Linked DNA regions of Homo sapiens. The protein of the gene in region 1 interacts with the protein of each later gene in a pairwise test. Each region holds a gene or a part of one and is shown on either strand. Other genes may lie near its edges.

The links. Proteins that work in one complex are often made in the same cells at the same time.
Region 2: the proteins of PIAS2 (region 1) and ACY3 interact in binary tests that used the Homo sapiens proteins (3 or more experiments, as listed by UniProt).

The regions. Positions count from the first base shown.
Region 1 is NC_000018.10:46,907,011-46,915,023, reverse strand, and holds part of PIAS2 (E3 SUMO-protein ligase PIAS2), read left to right. Parts: intron 1-8,013. UniProt on the Homo sapiens protein: Functions as an E3-type small ubiquitin-like modifier (SUMO) ligase, stabilizing the interaction between UBE2I and the substrate, and as a SUMO-tethering factor.
Region 2 is NC_000011.10:67,647,731-67,655,918, forward strand, and holds the start of ACY3 (N-acyl-aromatic-L-amino acid amidohydrolase (carboxylate-forming)), read right to left. Parts: upstream 3,001-8,188; 5' UTR 2,853-3,000; intron 1-2,852. UniProt on the Homo sapiens protein: Plays an important role in deacetylating mercapturic acids in kidney proximal tubules. Also acts on N-acetyl-aromatic amino acids.

The DNA.
Region 1 (8,013 bases):
AATGATTGGTAACATCCTTCTTGTGTGACATTATAATAAAGGAAGAAAAACAGACTAAAAAACGGAATAGAAAGAAAGAAAAGGGGAAGAAATAATCTTGGATTCTCAAAATGATGGTCCTTGGATCAGAATATATTGTGGTGGTCAGAGTGATGCTCAAGTAAATTATAGGACCAGGAAAAATTTTGGGCATTAGTTTGTTGGCTAACTTCTTGGCAGTAGAGAAATTGGTCAGCCGATCTGGATGCCACATATTTGGCTGCTGATATGCCACAGAGAGGATTTCCATTACCCTTCAAGGCTACTCATTTTGGACAAGTATAACCAGAGCAGTTCATATCCTGGCTAGTGCTGCATCTATACTGGAGATAGGGAATTTTGGGAAAGGTAATCCTCAGTGTGGTTTGGTGACCCTGGTGCCTTTGCTTTTCAGACTTGTGTGTCGGGGGTGGAGTTGGGGGGGGGAGGGTTGGTTATTCGATTAGGCAACTGTTAAGGGGGTCGCCTGACTATTTCAGTTTTGGAGACTGCTGCGTGAGCCAGTACCAGAGATCTTGGCTGGTCATAGCAGAATATGGCAGCTCTATACCTTGTTGCCTTTCAGTCCGGGTGACCAGAATACCAGCCCACCTCTCTTCCAGTTCTTCTGGGAGAGAGAATCTGATTGGCTGAGTTTAGGTCTCTACTTCTGTTCTAATCATCCATAGCCGGGGGCTTAGAGTCAAAGCACACAAACCTGATCAGCAGATTATCCTGATGGATTGAAGGAAAGGAAGTGGGGAAGTTCTCTGAAAAGGGAAAATGTGGCCTGTGTGCTCAAAGATGGTTACAATAATGTGTTATATATTAGAAGCTTTCAAGGTGCCAGAGAAGAAATTACTCAATTTACCAGTTGCTTATTTATGGCATCTGTGTTGTTAGGAGCTGAAGGAGTGATTAGTTTGTGAATGAACAGATTTTGAATTAACTAGTTGTGAATTAATGTGGGACAAGATCATAAGATTTGATGGCCTGAACTTCTGTCACTGCTGCCTTGCTTCCTCCTCCAAAAATGGTCTGGAGGGCAGGGCTTGGTAGCTCACACCTGTAATTCCAGCGCTTTGAGAGGCAAGAGGATCGCTTGAAGCCAGGATTTCTGGGTTACAGCTAGCTCTGATCTTGACACTGCACTCCAGCCTGAGCGACAGAGGGAGACCCTGTCTCAAACTAGTCTGTAGAAGAGCTAAGCACAGGGATGGAGGAGAGCAGGAGTTGAGTTTCTGGAATCACTTACCTCTTCTTTAACCAGAGCAGCTTTTTCTTTACCCTTCCAGTTGCATATTTCCAATATTGTGGTCTGCTGGTGGCAGTCATTCACAAAAAGGTCCCTGCTACACTTTAACCTGGTTAATCTACTTTCCCTACTTCTCATCACTCAATGGGGAGGAGGGGGATCTATTGTAGTGACTTTTTTTTTTTTTTTAAGGATCTCCCTTCTGTATTCTTCATCCCCTTCTTTTCATGCATTGAGAATTTATTCTGTGTGTGTCTCAGAATGAGAGAGAATGTGCCTGTGAGAATCTGGTTGTGCATTTGGCCTGAGAGAGCCAGCGATGATAACTTTATCAATAGATACTGGGTAAACCAGAACATTTACCAAACTGGGTAAATTTGTTGTGTCATAATTCGAAGATCAGATTTGGGTCTTTCATGCTAAGAAGCCTAAGTAATTCTGTAACAGAAGGTCTTCTGTCTAGAAGGCTTAAGTGTTTGGTTTCCTTACACCTACCAGGAGTCACCATCCTGATAACTTCAAGTGCTGTTAGGATGCAGCAGGAGAATGGGAAGTTAATGGGGGATTTGAGGTTAGAGGTCCTCATCACGCTCCTCTCCCCATTTATTGGGCAGGGATACAGACTAATAGCTATGATAGATATAACAGAATCTTCCATATGATTCAAAGCTATTATGGGATGCAACTAAAATTTCCAAGGCTTCACCTGAGCTCATGTCTATGAAAGCACGTTCGAAACAAAATATATTTAACTTAAAGTGAAATAGGCTGGGCGCAGTGGCTCAAGGCTGTAATCTCAGCATTTTGGGAGCCTGGGGCGGGTGGATCACCTGATGTCACATTTTTTATTCTCTCATTTCCATTTCTCATATTTTTTAAATGAAAGCAATATTTGTGCAGACAGTACTGAAAAAATTCAAAATAGTGAAAGTCTTCCCTTTTCCATTAAATCCCACTCCCATTATGCTTTTAACCATTTTTGTTTGTTTGTTTTTAGGGTTTTATTGTTGTTCCAAAAGTCTAAAAATATACCATGCCTTTCTCTCTATATTTTTTCAACTCAAAAAAAATATTTCTTAACTTTTTGCTAGATAAGAAATTTAGGTCATTTTCCACCTGTCCTAGACTTTGATTTCTATCAGTTACATTTTGGTTCCTAATTTTGCTGTTATTTTTAACTTTTTATTATAAATTTCTGTTTATTGACCTATCACTTTTAGACAGTATATTTGGCCCTTCATGTCTGTGAATGACTTATCTTTGGTTTCAACCAACCTTGGATCAAAAATATTCAGGAAAAAAGGTTGGTTACATCTGTACTGAACATGTACAGACTTTTTTCCTTGTCAGTATTTCCTAAACAGTATAGTATAACAACCATTTCATAGCATTTGCCATATATTAGGTATTGTAAACTAGAAATGATGTAAAGTACGTAGGAGGATGTGTATAGCTTATATGCAAATACTATGCCATTTCATGTAAGAGACTTGAGCATTCTTGGATTTTGGTATCTGCAGGGGACCCTGGTACCAGCCCCCTACGGATACTGAGAGACAACTATATTTCCTCACTTCCTGGTCTTTCAGAAAAAGATATAACACCGATCCCTTTCCTTTTGGGATTTAAAAGCCAAACCTTGCCTTTGTTTTTCCCTCCTCCCTTCCTAGCCTTTGTTTTCTTTTTTCCTTTTTTTTTTGAGACAGGATTTTGCTCTTGTTGCCCAGGCTGGAGAGCAATGGCGCCATCTTGGCTCACTGCAACCTCCGCCTCCTGGGTTCAAGCGATTCTCCTGCCTCAGCCTCGCGATTAGCTGGGATTACAGGCACCTGCAACCATGCCTGGCTAATTTTTGTATTTGTAATAGAGACAGGGTTTCACCATGTTGGTCAGGCTGGTCTTGAACTCCTGACCTCCGGTGATCCACTCCCCCTCCCTTGGCCTCCCAAAGTGGTGGGATTACAGGCATGAGCCGCTGAGCCCGGCCCCAGCCTTTGTTTTTGGTTAGTACTGTTACATTGGCAAGATTTATTGCATTTATATAATGTTTTATAACTCTTCTAAAGTTTTCTGTGCTTCTGCAGGAAAATCTAGAAATTGAGTACTAATAGCCACTCTTTTAAATATGTATGTTGACATGAGTATTAGTTACTATAGAACCAAGTACTGTGGAGCCATAGAGAAACTTCACTTCTGTTAAACCTGTGATCCTTAAAAAGGAAATATAACAAAGTCAGCCGGGCACAGTGGCTCACGTCTGTAAGCCCAGCACTTTGAGAGGCCCAGGCAGGCGGATCGCCTCAGGTCAGGAGTTAGAGACCAGCCTGGCTAACATGGTGAAACCCCGTCTCTACTAAAAATGCAAAAATTAGCCCGACGTGGTGGTGGGCACCTGTAATCCCAGCTACTCGGGAGGCTGAGGCAGGAGAATTGCTTGAACCCGGGAGGTGGAGGTTGCAGTGAGCCAAGATCATGTCATTGCACTCCAGGCTGGGTGACAAAGCAAGGCTTCGTCTCAGGAAAAAAAAAAAAAAAAGAAATATAACAAAGTCCTGGTTGAATGAGGAAAGCTCATTGAAGTTATTTTTAAAATTTAATATTATAATGGGTTCTCATGTTGTAGCCATTCAGCTTGTCTTGGTAGACTTTCCGGAGTCTTGGCCTGCCTTTTCTAATTTGGGAAGCTTAGTAGACCTGTTACCCAGCTGTCATCCTGGGATTACTTCACATTGTTCTCCTGGGTTAGATCTATTGTTATTTGGATCCCATGTTTTTCTCTTTTAGATACCTTTTTTATTTTACAGGAATACAGCCTTCAATAGTTGTTTCTGGAAGGATATGCTGGTGATAAACTTTCTGAGTTCTCGAATGTTGAAAATGGCTTGTCTTTGTTCCTGATTGAAAGTTTACATGTGGAATTATAAATTCCTCAGAATTTTGAAAACTTTGCTGTGGGAATCTAAAATACTTGGTGTGCTAATCAGAGGTCCATTGCAGATCTGATGGTTATTCTCCTGTAGAAGATTGTAATCTACAATTGTAGTCTACGATCTACGGGATTTGTTTACATTCTGAAAGGTTTCTTTGATTTTGTCTTTGAACTTTTCTATAAAATTTATTTCAGTAGTTATCTTTAATTTATAAGAGTTCTTCTATCATCTTTCATTTTTCTTTCTTTTTAAATAGCAACCTGTCCTTGATTTATGGGGAAATACCTTGAATTTCTCTGATGCTAATTTCTCTAGAGTTCTTGAGACACTTCCCTGAATTGGTGACTCTAACAGTGGGTTTGTATTTAGGTATTCCATACTAATTTTTGTATTTTAAATATTTAAGTTATTTGATAAGTACAAAAGATTATAACAGGTAAGGCGTATGTAAACAAACATACATATAATTACCAACCAGTTTACTAATTCATTAGTGTAACTTTAGCAGGATGCACTTTCCTGATCACATCCACTGCAACCATGTCCACCTTCACCAATGACAGTAGCCATTGTACTGAATTTTGGATTCATCATTCCTGGTCTGTCTTTATACTTTTAACATATATACATATGTAAAATTTATTTATTTATTTATTTATTTTTTGAGACGGAGTTTTGCTCTTCTTGCCCAGGCTGGAGTGCAGTGGCGCGATCTTGACTCACCGCAACCTCCTCCTCCCAGGTTCAAGCAATTTTACTGCCTCAGCCTCCCGAGTAGCCGGGATTACAGGTGTGCACCATGCCCGGCTAATTTTTTTGTATTATTAGTTTTCACCATGTTGGCCAGGCTGGTCTTGAACTCCTGACTTCAGGTGATCCACCCGCCTTGGCCTCCCAAAGTGCTGGGATCACAGGTGTGAGCTACTGTGTCTGGCCATCCATATTTCTTAAATCCAAATGTTTGAAAATGAAGAGAAAAAAACTGTAAAGTTTCACCAAACTTGTCTTGCAGAAAAACCCTGACCTGCACTGATATTGTAATCTTTGTTGATCTCACTTAGTGTGAATATTTGTATGTTTCACTGTAGAGATTCTAGGAATAGAATTGCTGGTATTTAAGAAGAATGTGTGCATATTCACCAATATTGGATAATGTCAGATTATCTTCCAAAAAAGGTGGTGTCAGTCTTCGTTCTCTCCAGCAATGCAGAAGTTTTCATTACTCAGCTTTCTTGCTAACATCTACTTTTGTCACACTTCAAAAGGTTTTATCGGTTGGGCATGGTAGCTCACGCCTGTAATCCTAGCACTTTGGGAGGCCATGGTGGGTGGATGGCTTGAGACCAGGAGTTTGAGACCAGCCTGGGTAAAATGGTGAAACCCCATCTCTACCAAAACAAAACAAAATTAGCTGGGCATAGTGGCCCACACCTGTAGTCCCAGCTACTTGGCAGGCTGAGATGGGAGGATCACCTGAAGCTAGGAAGTGAGCTGTGATCATGCCATTGCACGCCAGCTTGGGCAACAGAGTGAGACCCTGTTTCAAAAAAAAAAGTTTTTACCCACGAGTATAAAATACCACCTTTTAGTTTTCATTTGCTTTGCTAATGAGTTTGAGCATCTTTTACTATACTGATTAGCCATTCTTCCCTTTTCTCACATTCCTATTCATGTCTTTTGCCCATGTTTGTACTAGTTTTTTAAAAAAATTATTTCATACTGATTTTTAATAGTTTCACAGTTGGATGCATGTGGTGCAAATTTCTCCTTTCAATTGGGCTCACTTTTAAATCATTTTTATTTTTATTTTTTGAGATGGAGTCTCACTCTGTAGCCCTGGCTGGAGTGCAGTGGCGTGATCTCAGTTTACTGCACCCTCCACCCCCAAGGTTCAAGAGATTCTCCTGTCTCAGACTTCTGAGTAGCTGGGATTACAGGTACCCGCCACCATGCCTGGCTAATATTTGTATTTTTAATAGAGACGGGGTTTCACCATGTTGGTCAAGCTGGTCTCGAACTCCTGACCTCAGGTGATCTGCCCACCTTGGTCTCCCAAAGTGCTGGGATTATAGGCATGAGCAACTGCATCCAGCCTTATGCGTTTTTTGATGAGTAGAAGTTCTTAATTTTTATGTGATTGCATTTATCAGGCTTTTCTTTATGGATAGTGCTTTTGAATCTTGTTGAAGAAATTTTTCAACAGAGTTCTCGAAGATATTTTCCATTATTGTAAAAGTATAAGACGTAGTTTTTTTGTTTTTTGTTTTTGTTTTTTTTTTACCTTTTCTCATTTAAGGTTTTAATCCACCTGGAGTTGATTTTGTATACAGTGTGAAGTGGTGACCAAGATGCATGGTTTTTCCTCAAAGAATAATAAATTGTTCCATCACCTTTCATGCAAATTTTTTTCTTCACTGGTTTGGATGCCATCACTCATCTGTGCTTTGGTTCTGGACTCTGGGCCGTTAGTCTGTTTTTACAGAAATTGTTAAAAAGTTACAGTAACTAAAACAAGATGATGCTGCTGCTAGCATAAACAAACTTCTTGCCTGGTGAGGTGGCTCAAGGCTGTAATCCCATCACTTTGGGAGGCCATGGTGGGAGCATCACTTGAGCCAGGAGTTCAAGACCAGCCTGGGCAACATGGTGAGACCCCATCTCTGTGTAAGATAATATTTTTTATAATAAAAAACCAAACTTCTTTTGATATATAGCATACACATAGGAAGTACACAGATAATGAAATTATAGCTGGATGAATTTTCTCAAAATAATAATCGTGCAGGTCAAGAAAGAGAACATTACCAGCACTCTAAATATTCCCCTCCCCAGTGGCTAACCTCACCTCATTCTTCCAAAAGCGACCTACTATCCTAACTTTAACAGATTAGTATTGCCTGTTTTTGAACTTTATATAAATGGAACCTGTGTAGTATATATACAGTTGCCCCTTGGTGTACCTGGGGGATTGGTTCTAGGATCCACCCTCCCAACAGGAAAATCATGTGTACTCAAGTCCTGAAGTTGGCCCTGCAGAACCCATGTATAGGAAAAGTTGGCCCTCTGTATATGTGGGTTTCACGTCCTGCAAATACCATATTTTTGATCTGCATTTGGTTGAAAAAAAAATATGCGTATAAGTGGACCTGCACAGTTCAAACCAGTTGACAAGATACAGTTGACCTTTGACTAACACAGGTTTTTGTTATTGGATATGTTATTGTTATTCAATATTCAACTATATGTTATTGTTATTCAAAGGTCAACTGTATTCTGTTTCTGTATATGTATTCTGTTGTTTCTGCCTTTTTTTCTGTTTCGTTTGCCAGATTCATCCTTATTGTTGTCTGTAGTTGTAGTTGGTTCATTCCCTTTTGCTAGTGATATAGTAGAGTTCCAGTTGCTCCATATCCTTGTCTACCCTTTTAATTTTAGACACTCTGGTGAATGTGTAGTGGTTTTAATTTGCATCTCCCTAATAAGTAATGATGTCAAGCTCCTTTGAATGTGCTTATTGGCCATTTGGGTTTCTTTTGTAAAGTGGCTTGCCAAGTCTTTTACTCATTTTTATATTGGGACATCTGTCTTTTCCATACTGATTCGTAGGAGTTCATTATACATCTTGGAAACCATCTCTTGCTGGTTATGTTTTGCACATACCTTCTCTTGTTTCCCCTGAGTCTATTCAGAGTTCTGCTGGACTTTTAACCTCTCCATTGCCCTTTTCCATTGGCAGATATCTCCGGGGAAGGCATCAAGAGACTCAGCTTTGCAGGCTCTCCTTCTTTTCAGAGTCTTGGTGTCTCAGGT
Region 2 (8,188 bases), on another chromosome or scaffold:
CTTGTGCTGCCACGGCCCAACGAGTCCAGGTCCTGCGGGCAAGTTCCTGCCCCTGCCCTTCGTCCTTCTGCTGGGCCCCAGAGGGGCCACCTTCCTTAACACTACTAAGAGGTACACCCGCAGTGGGGTGGTGACTTGGTTTTGGTCACCACCAGAGCAGGCTATTGAAAGTTACTATAGAGGTGTCACCTTGATGGCCACCAAGATGACAAGCTGCCCCTCCTTCACCACCTCGGCAACATGCCTCTGTCCTTGCAGCCCGGAGAGGGCTGTGGTCACTCCTGAGTCGCCCTTACCCAAAGGTGCCATGTGGAGCCCCAGTTTTACAGCTCTTTGTTGCTTTAAGCAAAATTTTAAAATGTTTGATCCGGGATTTCAGTCATTTTCAAGGACAGTGTAACTCAGATGACTCGGTTTGCCCTGTTTTGGGAACAACCCTCAGGCTCATTTTATAGATGTGAAAACTGAGGCTCAGAAAATTGTCTGCAGGCACACAAGCCCTAGAGGCAGGCTGCAGGTGGCCCACAGAACCCTAGGGGCAGACTGTTCAGCGGCACACAGAGCCCTAGAGGCGGGCTGCAGGTGGCGCACAGAGCCCTAGAGGCGGGCTGTAGGTGGCACTCAGTGCGTCCAATGTGGCTCCATCCCCTCCTGCTGCCTCTCAAGAGCAAAGTGGGGAAGGATGAAGGTGAGGTCCCCTGCACTCAGCCCTGGGGCCTCTACCTCCCACCAGGCTCAGCTGTCTGCTGGGAGGAGCTGAGGCCAGTTCCGAAGTCACTGGGGAGTGAGGCAAGCTGCTCCGCCAGGGCCTGCTGGATGCCAGGTGCTGGGACCCTGAGCTGGAGCCTCCCCCAGGCATCGATCCTGGGCCTTCTTTACCACCACACTGGGTCTCCCCGGGCCAGTCCAGCCCTGCTCCAGATGCCAGGCCCACCAGCCTGGGGGGCTCTGGGTGGCCAGGACCCTCTAAGTTACACCCTCTCGGAAGCTGCCCCAGATCACACTCAGCTCTGTGTGGCCTGGGCTCTCCTGCCCTCCACACCCAAGGCTTCGTGAGCTCAGAGCATGGCGATTGTGGGGACAGGGGATTTGTCATCCTGGCTCCCATCAGGGCAGCTGGGATCTTGACAGGGTGTCAAGAGGGGTGGATGGAGTGTGAGGCTGAGCCCCCAGTGGGCCGGGGCTCCCTATGAGCCCCCTCCAGGGGCCACTCCTCCTGGCACCTGGAGCCTCAGCAAAGGGAGGGCAGAGACTGCCATTAGGGGGCCATGCCATGCCATCAACTCCTGTATCCGGCCCAGCCCTGGGGGCAGCTGTCACCGGCTCCATTTTGCAGGTGTGGACTGAAGCTCTAGGGGTTGGGTGACTTGACTGAGTCCTTGGCAGGTGGTGGGAGAGGGAGTCAGCAGAGGAGCCTGTCGGCCTGGGTCTGTTCCTTCCTTGCTTGGGGTAGGGGTCTCAGGGACCCCCATGCTGCTTTATGAGTCCCAGGCCATGGTCTTTGTTGGAAGGCCCCCCCAACCCCCACAGAGGCTGGGATCCTGCTGACTCGGTGTGGTACCTCTCAGGAAGGAAGGGCCTCCGTGGCAGACCTAGCTATTTTGGGGGCTGCTGGGGGCCAGGGTGCTTCCTGCCACAAGGTGCTGGGCCCCCAAGTTTAGGGAGAACAGCAGTAGGGGTGCTGGAAAGTTTCACTTCCCTTGGCTGGGGTCCAGCTTCTGCATTTCAGTGAGTGTTTATGGAACAGAACGGGGTCCAGGAACCCTCAGAAACAGCAGCCCCCAGTCCTGGCAGTGTGTGCGCGTGTGTGCATGTGTGTGCATGCATGTGTGCATCTGTACATGTGTGCGTGTGCATGAGAGCATGTGTGTGCGTGTGTGCACTCACATGTGTACGTGACAGCATGCGTGTGTGCGTGCGTGTGTACATGTGTGTGCATGTGCATGAGTATTGTGTGCATGTGTGCATGTATGTGTACATGTGTGCGTGTGTGCATGAGAGCATGTGTGCGTGTGTGCGCATGTGTGACAGCATGCATGTGTGCGTGTGTACGTGTGTGCATGTGCATGAGAGTATTGTGTGCATGTGTGCATGCATGTGTGTGTACATGTGTGCGTGTGTGCATGAGAGTGTGTGTGCATGTGTGTGCATGTGTGCATGTGCTTGAGAGCGTGTGTGCGTGCATGTGCGTGAGCATGTGTGCGTGTGTGTGTGTTGTGTGCACACGTGTGACCTGGCTCTGGCCCCACCTCCCTGACAGGCTGTGTGACCTGGAGAGATTCAGTGCCCTCTCTGGGCCTTGGCTCCACCCTGTGAAAGTCCTGGCCAAGGGCAGCTGTGGGGAGTGAGGAACAAAGGGCGGGCACAAGCTTGAAAATGGGCACATGGAGACCCCAGCATGAGTGAGGGCAGAGGATGGTGATGTCATGGGCATCATCACGGGGGCCAATTTCCTCACTGCAGTTGGGGAAACTGAGACCCAGAGAGGGGTCAGAGCTGTGGTTCCCCCCTGTGTCAGCATCCAATTAGATCATGCCTCCCAGCATCACCTCATTGCAAGATGCAATCAGATCACGCCTCATTACCCTATGCTTATAAAACCTGCCCCAGCCCTCAGCTCGGGGAGACACTGCTTTGGGAGCTGTCTAGGTGTTCTCCTTACTTGTTGCAAGAAATAAAATCCCCTATTAAATCCTCTTTAGTTAACACCCGCCAAGCAACTGAGCCCACCCGTTGTGTGGGTAACAAAACTCTGGCGACCCAGATGGGGCCGACTGGGATTCTGATCCTAACTTCTTGAGGCTCACTAAGGTAAAGCAGTGGGCCGCGGCACCTTCCCCGGGCGAACTCACCCACGTGGCCCCAGAGGGTTGAGGGTGACTCCCGGGGATCTTCTGCTTGCTGCGTGGCCCGTGGGGCTGTCACTCCGCCCTACCCCCGAAACAGCGGAAGCAGCTGCCTGGAGCTTTTGTTCTGTGCTGCTCCTTCAGGGAAGAAAGTGGACTTTGCCCCGTGGGTTGACTGAAAGGGTAAATTCTTTGGACCTAGCAGTGGGATCTCTAGACTTCAGCGCAGGGCACCTCTGCTTTCGGTTTCTGTCTGGCTCTACGTGCCGTGGGGGATTGAGAGGCATCTCTGGCCAGGCCAAGGGCAACCCGGATCCCGGATCTGGGTAGACAACAGTGGGACTAGTTTTGGGAATTCGTTTTTTTTTTTTTGAGACAGAGTCTGGCTCTGTCACCCAAGCTGGGGTGCAGTGGCGCGATCTCGGCTCACTGCAAGCTCCACCTCCCGGGTTCACGCCATTCTCCTGCCTCAGCTTCCTGAGTAGCTGGGACCACAGGCGCCCGCCACCACGCCCGGCTAATTTTTTGCATTTTTAGTAGAGACGGGGTTTCACCGTGTTAGCCAGGATGGTCTCGATCTCTTGACCTCGTGATCCGCCCGCCTCGGCCTCCCAAAGTGCTGAGATTACAGGCGTGAGCCACCGCGCCCAGCATGAGAATTTGTTCTTTTTTAGAGAAACAGAATTTTTCACAGGAGGCTGAGCTGCTCCATCTCCCAGAGCCCCTACTTGCCATACCCCGGGTTACCAGAAACAGGAGCTCTGCCATTTGATGAAAAAAATACTTTTTTCAGATAAATGTTTTTGTCATATCATCACACAAAGCGGGTAAAGTTGTATATATATACATACAACTTTTTACAAATATGTGATCATATGTACAAAGGCTAGAAGGAAATATACAGAAAAATATGTATTAAAATACTGGTTTTTTTTCATTGTTTTATAAGATACTCTACAAAACATTACAATGAGGTAGGACTATTTTAGTGCTAGAGAATCTCATTAAATGAATTTGTTCAAGAGCTTCTTTGTCAGCTGGGTGCAGTGGCTCACACCTGTAACCCCAACACTTTGGGAGGCCAAGGGGGGCAGATTGCTTGAGCCTAGGTGTTCAAGACCAGCCTGGGCAACATAGGGAGACCCTGTCTCTACCAAAAAAAAAAAAAAAATTAGGGTGGGCGCGGTGGCTCACACCTATAATCCCAGCACTTTGGGAGGCTGAGGCGAGTGGATCACCTGATGTCAGGAGTGTAAGACCAGCCTGGGCAACATGGCAAAACCCCGTCTGTACTAAAAATACAAAATTTATCCAGGCATGGTGGTGGGTGCCTGTAATCCCAGCTACTTGGGAGGCTGAGGCATGAGGCAGAGGTTGCAGTGAGCCGAGATCATGCCATTGCACTACAGCCTGGGCGACAAGAGCGAAACTCTGTCTCAAAAAAAAAAAAAAAAAAAAATTAGCCAGGTGGTGGCACACACAGCTGTGGCCCCAGCTACTCAGGAGGCTGAGGCGGGAGAATCACTTGAGCACGGGGAGTTGGAGGTAATCGTACCGTGAGTACAGTGAGCCGTTATCGTATGGCTGCATTCCAGGCTAGACAACACAGTGAGACCTTGTCTCAAAAGAAAATAAATAAATAAATAAATAAATAAATAAATAAATAAATAAATAAAGAGCTTCTTTGTCAATATCCTTTTGTGGGTATACATCATAGTCCCACAGTACTTCTTCAACCCAGGGAGATAAATGTGTATTAGTCTGAAGACCCAGGAGAGAATCTTCAAGACTTGGCACTGTCACTGATGATGATCTGCTTCCTTACATTATGACAAATGTATTCCCAGCTCCGGCTTGTTCTGCCTCATTAAGAGAATATTTGAAGACATTATTCATGATAGCAGCATCAGCATTTTGCAGAAGAAACCCTGGGGACAGATGTCTGCATGAAGCACCTTTATTCTGTGAATAAACTGGTATTTTTTAATGACCATTTCCTGCAACTGGCAAAAGTCTCCGTTCAGTTCTACTCCACAGGGTTGCACTGCTAAGCTATAAGATCACCCCATAAAGACTGTGCTGAGCCTGGAGCTGACGTCAGCCACAGCCTTTCCTGATTGATCAGGGAGTGCATGAAGATAAATGAACTTCAATTCCATGAGGGAGAAGGAACGAGCAATCGGTCTAAAGGTTCTGTTTGGTGTGAACCACCCAGTAGTTTCTGCTCATTTTCCCTTTGTCACATAATGAATCAATGAAGTCTTTATCACAAAGGAATGCGTCAGCGTGAATGGTGGGTTCTGGCTGCTGCTGTAGTTTTTGAAGGGTTAGATGTTCTGAGGAAAGCATGGTTTCTAGAGGCAAGCAATTCTGAAGGTCTTCTGCAGTGGGTTTTTTTTTTTTTTAATTTTGAGACAAGGTCCGGCTCTGTCACCCAGGCTGGAGTGCAGTGGCTCGACTGTGGCTCACTGCAACCTCCAACTTCCAGGTTCAAGCAGTCCTCCCATCTCAGCCTCCCAAGTAGCTGAAACTACAGGCACGCACCCAGCTAATTTTTTTTTTGAGATGGGGTCTTGCTATGTTGTCCAGTCTGGTCTCAAACTCCTGAGCTCAAGTGATCCACCCCCTTCAGCCTCCTAAAGTGCTGAGATTACAGGCATAAGCCACCACACCCAACCTTTCTGCTGTGTTTTTAAACACAATGTCTTTATTTCCTTCAGTGAATTCATCAAAATCTCGGGCAGTTTGCATCTGCTGGAGCAGTGCCGGGCGGTCGGCAGAGCCACAGTATAGAGCAGTTACAAGATTTCCTGCCTTGCCGAGTGAAATCTATGCCTTCCAATTTTTTTTAATTAATTAATTTTTAAAAAATTAGATTGGTACAAAAGTAATTGCAGTTTTTGCCATTACTTTCAATGGCAAAAACAGCGGTTACTTTTGAACCAACCTAATATTATAGAGACAGGGTTTCACCATCTTACCTAGGTTGGTCTCGAACTCCTAAGCTCAAGTGATCCACCCACCTCGGCCTCCCAAAGCGTGGTGATTATAGGCATGAGCCACCATGCCCGCCCCTCCCCACCAATATATTTTTAAAACTAGTTGAGTGTGGGCCAAGAGTTGTGGGATCTGTGTCACCACCAATCCCGCCTCTAAGCTGCTGGGTGGGTAATATGGGAAAACAGTAATTGTAGCAGGACTCCAGTGGCAGAAGCCATGCGGATAAACTACAAAAAGCAGAAGGGACACTGGGGATGCTGACATCTCCATTGGTTGAGATTACCCTTAAGGTATTGAGCAACTGTGGCCAGGTCCAGGAAGGGCAAAAAAAAAACAAAAAACAAAAAACAAAAAGGCAACACAAGACAAGAAGCCATCGAGTCTCTTGGCTACAACCAGCCAGTACACAAGAAACAGTTCACTGCGGCCAGGCGTGGTGGCTCATGTCCGTAATCCCAGCACTTTGGGAGGCTGAGGCGGGAGGATCACCTGAGGTCAGGAGTTCAAGACCAGCGTGGCCAACATGGCTAACCCTGTCTCTACTAAAAATATAAAAAATTAGCCAGGCATGGTGGTGGGCACTTGTAATCCCAACTACTCGGGAGGCTGAAGCAGGAGAATCGCTTCAACCCAGGAAGCGAAGGTTGTAAGCTGATATCGCGCCATTGCACTCTAGCCTGTGCGACAAGAGCAAAACTCTTTCTTGAAAAAAACAAAAAACAAAAAAACAAAACAGTTCACTGGAGATGATCAGCCATAAGTAAGATCCCTAGGGACCCCACTGCCCGGCCAAAGGGCCTCCCGCCCTTGAGAACACAACAGTGTGCATATTGTAAACAAGAGGGCCATTGGGTACTAGAGTGTCCTAACTGTCCCCAGTGGGTAGGGAAAGAAACTTCCCCGTCAATCAGCCCACCAGATGCTACAGTTTGCTAATAGTGACCAGAAGTGATGGGACTTGGGGACTCCTCTATGATCTGGGAACCCCTAGATCGGGTAACAATTGCTGTGGGAGAGACTCACGGGTTTTCCGACACTAGAGCCAAATTTTTGCCTGTCTCCTTTCTACCGTGTTCTTCCTAAAATTTAGGAAAGGGCTTCTGCTGTATGGGAGAGATAAATTTTAGCTAAAATTGTTAGTTGGACGGAGACAGAGTTGGAACTGTCTTTTAAGTAGTGAATTTTACCTGACCCATGGCTAAACCTTTAAAAGTTAAAGCTATAGGATCGTTATTTGTATCTGGTAGTATGTACACGTCCGGTTATATTTGGCTATGGTACCGAATTGGCTTATAAAGAAATGAGTACTCATAAACTAAGCAAATAAGACCAAGTGCTTTTCAAGTTCACATGACAGTAATCTTTTGGTGAATGGAACTAGTCTAAAATTGTTGGTTTGATGGGAATGGTGTGCCTTCTGAAATGTAACTTAAAGGTTCTTACTTTTTTTTTTTTTTTTTTGAGACGGAGTCTCGCTCTGTCGCCCAGGCTGGAGTGCAGTGGCGTGATCTCGGCTCACTGCAAGCTCTGCCTCCCGGGTTCACGCCATTCTCCTTCCTCAGCCTCCCGAGTAGCTGGGACTACAGGCGCCTGCCACCACGCCCGGCTAATTTTTTGTATTTTTTTTTTTTTTTTAGTAGAGATGGGGTTTCACTGTGTTAGCCAGGATGGTCTTGATCTCCTGACCTCGTGATCTGCCCACCTCGGCCTCCTAAAGTGCTGGGATTACAGGCGTGAGCCACAGCATCCGGCCTTAAAGGTTCTTACTTTTATGATAGTTGCCTGACATCCAGCTATATAAAGGTAATTAACAGATAAATAATTTGAAATGATGACTAGCTTTGTCTAATATATCAGTTCTCATAAGTAATCCTGGTAAACTGCTAAAAATAAATAAAGTATGTAAAGGTAAATGGGATAAGTATCTATCGGCTTTTTAATGTAATTTGAAATCCTCTATTAGGTAATGGATACTCATTAACTATGTGAGTTATTTCCAAATAAGACAAAAACTGGAACAAATTGCTGACCATAAATATGTTTGCCCTGGGTCTCTTAAATTTAATATAAAGACTAAATATGTTTGGGCCTATAAATACGTATAAAAATTATGCTATAGGAAAACATGTTTTTCTAACAATTACAAAATGGCTCTTCCCCATAAAATACCAATATGTGATAGGAAGTTCAAGATTTTGTGCTTCCTATGTTTTCAACAAAATTTAAGGGAACTGGATGGGCACTGTGGCTCATGCCTGTAATTCCAGCACTTTGGGAAGCTGAAGCAGGAGGATCGTTTGAGATCAGGAGGTTCAGACCAGCCTGGGCAACATAGTGAAACT